2 linked regions of the Homo sapiens genome follow. The protein of the gene in region 1 purifies or fractionates together with the protein of each later gene. This does not show direct contact. Each region holds a gene or a part of one and is shown on either strand. Other genes may lie near its edges.

Region 1 (3,076 bases):
CCTCTCCAGCTTTATCTCCTGCCATTCTGCCACGTCATTTCATTCCCTCCACCCATACCAGATGGCTTGCAGTTCCCCAAATATGCTATATTATTAACTTACGTGCCATGCTGTTGCCACAGTCTAAAACATACTCCCTGCCCCGTCTCCACTCGGCTAATTCCTACTCAAATTTCAAATACTAGCCCAAGGGTCCTCATCGTTTTCTCTTACATCACTCACATCCTCACCACCTAAAGCCTGGATTAGGTATCCTCCTCTTTGTTTCCACAGTACCATATACAAACACCTATCATGCTTATCAAGTCTGCTTACCTGTTGGTCTCTCCCACCAGACTTGAAGCTCCTTGATGGCAGAGACTGTATTTCATTTACTTATCCTCAATGTTTAATAAAGTGCATAGCACCTAGAAGTTATCTATGTCTTTTGAATAAAGTTCCCAAAGGGACACTTCTGCCTTTTCAGCATTCTACCTGTACTACTATCCCTTCCCATTTCCCAAATGGCAGATTCTACCTTCCACTCTTCTGCCTCCAGCTGCCCCTGGGTTTACCCGTCCTCCACTCAGTGCAGAAGAAGCTGCCCTGCGTCGGGCCCTGGAACACACGGATGGTGACCACAGTTCTCTGATCCAGGTGTATGAAGCCTTTATACAAAGTGAGTTCTGCATCCTTTTATAGAATCCCAGATTTTCCAAAGAGGGGAAATTTTATGCAGCCAGCTGACAGATCTCTATGCTCAGAAAGAGGAGGCCCTTTGGCTAAGGGTTGGGTTATTTCAGGGGTCTCAAGGACTTTAGTTTAGCTGGTCCCTTTCCTCTCCTAGGTGGAGCAGATGAGGCTTGGTGCCAGGCTCGAGGTCTGAATTGGGCAGCATTGTGCCAAGCCCATAAACTTCGGGGAGAACTCCTAGAACTCATGCAACGAATTGAACTTCCCTTGTCCCTACCAGCCTTTGGCTCTGAGCAGAATCGCAGAGACCTTCAGAAAGCACTGGTGTCAGGATACTTTCTCAAGGTTAGAGGAAAGGGTGGGGGTGAGGGTGATCAAAGGAGCAAAAGGCAAAGAGAACAAATATTGGTAAGCCACTTTGAAATCAGGGTCCAGGTGGCCATTCAAAAGATTCTTTAGAACCAGAAAGGACTTTTCCCTTGAGGATTTGAGGTACAAGGGGCTATGGTAAATGCCATGAGGTATAGTAGAGACCAGACAACACCTAGAGGTAATGCTTTACTTTTCATGCTCTCATCACCCTTACTCTTTCTCAATCCCCTTTTATTTTTTTCTACTGCCTGCCTCTTCCCTTTTATTTATTCCGTCAATATTTCTGCCTTTCAATAAGGTGGCCAGAGACACAGACGGGACTGGAAATTACCTTCTCCTAACCCATAAGCATGTGGCCCAGCTCTCCTCATACTGCTGCTACCGAAGCCGCAGAGCTCCTGCCAGACCCCCACCATGGGTGCTCTACCACAATTTCACCATATCCAAAGACAACTGCCTTTCCATTGTTTCTGAGATTCAACCACAGATGTGAGTTCCCTGACATCCCTCCTATACTGCCTATTCCTCTCCCTGGGGCCAAAATTATGGCTGGGGAGTTAGAGAGACAGAGGAAGGGATCTTAGTGGTTAGTAAAAACATGATCTGAGGAGACAGGATTTGTGGAAGGGCTGGTGAGAAGTTTAAAAGTCTGCATTATAAGAGAAGATGCACTTTTGGAGACCTAGGCAGGAGGAGTCCTTGAGGCTAGGAGTTTGAAACCACCCTGTAGTCCCAGCTACTTGGGAGATTGAGGTGGGAGGATTACTTGAGTCTAAGGCTAAGGATTACGGGAGTCTAAGGCTACAGTGAGTTATGATCATGCCACTGAACTCCAGCCCAGGTAACAGAGCGAGACCCTGTCTCTAAAAAGAGAGAGACAGAGAGAGAGAAGATGCAGATCATCTAATTATGACTCTCTCTATTAGGCTGGTGGAATTGGCCCCTCCATACTTCCTGAGTAACTTGCCTCCCAGTGAGAGCAGAGACCTTCTGAACCAGCTAAGGGAAGGAATGGCAGATTCTACAGCAGGGAGCAAATCATCCTCAGCCCAGGAGTTCAGAGATCCCTGTGTCCTGCAGTGACCTGCCTGCCTATGGAATGGAGCTGGGTTCATCTCATCACATTAGATTATCCCTCAGGGTGACACCAAAGCACCCAGACAGATTTAGAAGCCCAAAGTTTAGGGTCAAATGTAAACCCTGGAACCTGAGTCCCAAGAAATGGTAGACTGGGAATGGAAAGAATGGGGTAAACCACAGTCTACATAGGGAAGGACTCTTTCCTTAGCCTTCTCTTATTGATTGGAGAGGGACTGACATGCTCCTCATTCTCTTAACTTTGCCAAACCCATTCTTGTACTCCCTTGTGATCTATAAAAGATTTTTCTATGATGCCAAGTTTTAGTTTGGTCCTGCAGTGCCATATACAACATCCATAAATCAGTGATGATATTACAGTAAATAACCAGGGCCAGCTCCTCCAACTATATAGTCTCTAGCCTCTTCCCATCTCCAATCAGGCCTTCATGCTATGATCGACATAGTTGTCACTAGCACAGACATGAGTTGTCTGGCTACAGTTGGTCTCTAGCCTGGCCTCTCTTCCCTCTGTCACAGTGCACCAGCCTCCAGGGGACAAAGGATGGGGGTGCTAGAGGAATCAGACAAATTCTTCCCTTTCTTCCTCATACAGCTTAAATCCAATTCCTTTTTAAACCTTAAGGCTAATGCAACCATCCCCTAACTAGACTTTCTATTAACAAGCTTCCCAGCAGCCCAGACACACCCACAAGGGGAAGTCTTTCTAACAACTTCAGAGACATCATGCTTTCCTTTCTTTCTTCCTAGGTTCTCCTTCCTTCCCTTCCCCTTTTGTGCCCTCGGAATTTTTTTTTTTTTTTTTTTTTAGACGGAGTCTCGCTCTGTCACCCAGGCTGGAGTGCAGCGGTGCAATCTCAGCTCACTGCAACCTCCACCTCCCGGGTTCAAGCGATCCTCCTGCCTCAGCCTCCTGAGTAACTGGGACTACAGG
Region 2 (3,576 bases), on another chromosome or scaffold:
GCTACTGAGAACCCCCCAGGCCTTCTCTTTCCCTACCTGCTTTCATCTCTCATATAAGATACTGATTCAGGACACCTCTCCCTTTTCATTATAGTGCATTTTCAACTTGAGGGCCCAGACCCAGGCTCAAGGCAACTGGCAAAGCATGGGACTTTGCTGGAAAACCTTCTTGGTCCGAGCTCTGCAGCACCATTCCCTTAAGAGACGCCGGAAGCCACGGCACACCCGTGACTTGTTGAGACAGTCGAGATACTGAGAACCCCTCTTTTTTGCATATAGATACTAGGCCTCCATCTCGCAAATATTCTGGAGACTAATTTACCTTATTGATATGAAAGTTATTCACGGCCTGCCAGACAAGCTCACACCACCTTCTCTATGGGAGTGTGTCCGCAACCCCACCCAGCTTTCCGTCTGTATAAATATGAATACCTTCCTGAGCCTTCTCCCACACGCAGTAACCTGTTCCATGTAAGTGTGCTACCCCTTACACAGTCACACACACAGAGTGACACAGACACAAAAGGCAGCTTTACTTTCATGTGGCTCAGAAAAAAAAAGATACAAACACAAAGAGGGAAGGGTGGCAAGTGGGAAATTGGGGCAAAAGCTAAGCAGGAATTCTATCTTCTTTGCAACTTTTCTGTAAATTTTAAATTTACTTCCTAGTTAAAAATTACCAAATTAACTTACAAGTCAGGTCCCCACCTCCAAGGGAGGGAAAAAGAATACTGCGAGTTCCTGAAATGCTGACCTGTGCCCTCCCTGACCTCTGTCCTATCCACATACTGTCATGGGCCTGCTGGTGACACTCCACCCTGCCCTGCCTTCCCCCTGGGCCAGGTGCCATGCTATTCGTGTGCATTTGCCTCAGTGTGACTGACACAGAGGTTCCTGCTTGTCAGGTACCAGGTCCTGTGCCTGAGACACAGAGAAGACTCCAGAGCAGAAGCAGCTGGGCCTACTGGAGAACGCCAGGCCTGGGCAGGAGACAGGCATCCTGTGCACACTGGCCACAGGCACTGGGGCTGGGGGTCGCAGAGCACATGGAAGCCTTACCTGGCCCACAGGAAGTGTGTTGGGGTGTGGGAAGAGTGGAGCATTCAGCCTCATGACCTTTGCTTAATCCCCACTCTACGCCACACTCACAGGCCAGGCCAGTCTTCCCTCCGAGCCCTGAACGGTATCACACTGAGTGAGGACAGTCCTTCCTGCACAGAGGTGACACCTGCTCCACCAGCTGCACTGACTCCTCCTAAGGCCCGGGAGGCTACCTTGAGCCACCACCCACAGGGGCTGTGGGCACTTCTCATGCTCTCCTCCCAGGAGGTGGTGATGCACTTACGGAAGGCAACTAAATCAGCTCATGGACTCAAGGACACACCCAAGGACGAGGTGGGAGTCCTTTGGGAACAGGCCAGCCCTGGGACGGTGGTGATGACAGGCGAGCATGGAATGTGCCCCTTAAATAAGACCCAACGTGCAAAGGTCTGTGCTTCCCAGCAGCAATGAGGTGATGGTTCTTAGCATAAAGATGCTTTACTTCCGAAGGGACTTGCTTCATGGTTCCATTAAAGAGTGGGCCCCACCTGGCTGGCCATGCAGCGCCAGCTGTGGGTACATACCTAGGCGCTGGGCAAGGCCAGTAGAGGTCGTGTCGGAAGTGTCTCCAAGGAGGGAGGTAGACACGGGGATGGAGTCCTAAAAGAAAAGCAAAGGGCACACTGCAGCTTCTCCACCCCCCGCAGGCCAGCCACACTTCTGGCTTCCGGGCTTCTGATTCTTCACGACGATGGCAGTGGCAGGTTCAGAGAGGACAGGCACAGGTGCCGAGGGAAAGAGGGGTGGCGTCCGTCAACAACCAAGTAGGTGGACCCCATGTCGCATATGAGGTCAGCGGAGTTGGGAAAGATGAAGCTGGAACCACAGTGCTACTAAGTTCTAGGACCAGTTTCACACGAAAGGCTCGTTTTAGTGTCTCAAACTCCAAAGCATGCTGAAGGGCAACACCACAACCAAAAGGGAAGCAAACAAGATCATTAAGGCTACAGCAAGAAGAAAGTGACTCACAGTCGGGGCACCTGTGCACTGGTGCCTCGTGCCCCACAGCAGCTGGCTCAGAGGCAGGATGCCTAATCTCCTCATCTCAGCCTGTGAGGGAGCATGCTGCTCCAGCCCCTGTGGGCTCCTCAGGGTCAGCGAGTGCCTTGTGACTTTGATACAAAGGGCACCAGCCACCAGCATCTAAATAGGGAAAATAACTTCTGAACATGCTTGGCCAACCTCATTTCAGACAAGAAGCAGTAAGGTGAAACAAGCAGTACAAATGATTCTCAGATCAACAAATGGGCCCTCCGGCGATGTGGGAGTAACTGCTCCCAACTACTTTGGGAGTAATCTCTCACCATTAACAATGTCTAGCTAGTCCCAGAATCCCAGCACTTTGGGAGCCTGTGGAGGGAGGACTGCTTGAGACCAGGAGTTTGAGACCAGCCTGGACAATGAAGTAAGATCTGTCTCTACATTTTTATTAAAAATAATAATAAAAAAATAAAGTAAGAAGGTCTAGCTTCCAAAGGGGGAAAAAAAAAACACTTATTGGTAATATGGCCAAAATTGCTTTTATCAAAATAGCAGATTTCTAGGAGAAGCAGCCTGGCTACAGAGGTCTGAGAATCTTGGAAAGTGGCAAGGTTTTTAGAGGTACAGAGACTTTGGGGTTTGGTTCCCCTGCCACCCCAACTGTCCTGGTGGGGACAAGTTAACTGAACAAACAGCTACTGTGTGCCAGACAGTATGGCAGGGCAGAGACCACAGGCGCTGCTCATCTCCTAAAGGTTCAAAGCCACTTCCACAAAAGACAATAAAAGGCAGGAGATCAAAAAACACAGGAGAAGAATGAAAGCATTTACTGTATGCTTCTTCACTAAAAACGATACAAAAATATCTTAATGAGCCTGCTGTTTACAGATTCCTCAAGTTCAACATTTAGCTGCATGGTAATAGTATGTACAGTTAAACCTTCTAGAAAAAAGAAAATCTACCTTACCCAGGGTGGCCTTTTTCTACCAAAAGTTAAATGTAAAGCCCCATCGTGTCACCCTTAATAGTTCATTACTTCCGACATCACACTAGGACTGTGGTCTCCCAGCAGATGCCCAGGGAGTTCTGCTGCAGCTGAAGCACCACCTTCCACTCCTAGAGGCCGGGCGGGGGGTCCAAGAATCCCTGAGCAGGCACGGGCCCAGGTCCCAGGCCAGCTTCCCTCAAGCTGGTAGGACTCAGTGTCACTAGTCCTGCAGCCTCTCTGGGCACCAAAAATCCCTGCTCAACCCAAGGTCAGCCAGCTCCGGGTTGCATGGTGTCTGTTCTCTACAGTCTCACATGTGGGAGTTTAGGGAAGCTGGAGGGAAGAGACCTCACAGACCGTCTGGTGCCATTCTCCACGTGTGGGCTGGCAAAATTCCTGAGAGGGACCAGATAGTAACTAGTTCAGGCTTTATGGATTACAAAGTCTCTATTACAACTGCTCAGCCCTGCCACCAAGGTACAAGAGCTCCACAGAGTCTACCTGCA

Evidence for each region.
Region 2: the proteins of DQX1 (region 1) and PSMG4 purify together in Homo sapiens (affinity purification with mass spectrometry; 2 studies listed by BioGRID and IntAct, with this or other methods). This does not show direct contact.

What each region holds. Positions count from the first base shown.
Region 1 is NC_000002.12:74,517,497-74,520,572, reverse strand, and holds the end of DQX1 (ATP-dependent RNA helicase homolog DQX1), read left to right. Parts: intron 1-538; coding exon 539-658; intron 659-826; coding exon 827-1,017; intron 1,018-1,342; coding exon 1,343-1,533; intron 1,534-1,970; coding exon 1,971-2,127; 3' UTR 2,128-2,442; downstream 2,443-3,076. UniProt on the Homo sapiens protein: Might be involved in RNA metabolism; it is missing helicase motif III and may not have helicase activity.
Region 2 is NC_000006.12:3,261,809-3,265,384, reverse strand, and holds part of PSMG4 (proteasome assembly chaperone 4), read right to left. Parts: intron 1,702-3,576; coding exon 1,626-1,701; coding exon of another isoform or gene 1,561-1,625; exon of another isoform or gene 1,212-1,560; coding exon of another isoform or gene 1,060-1,211; exon of another isoform or gene 1-1,059. UniProt on the Homo sapiens protein: Chaperone protein which promotes assembly of the 20S proteasome.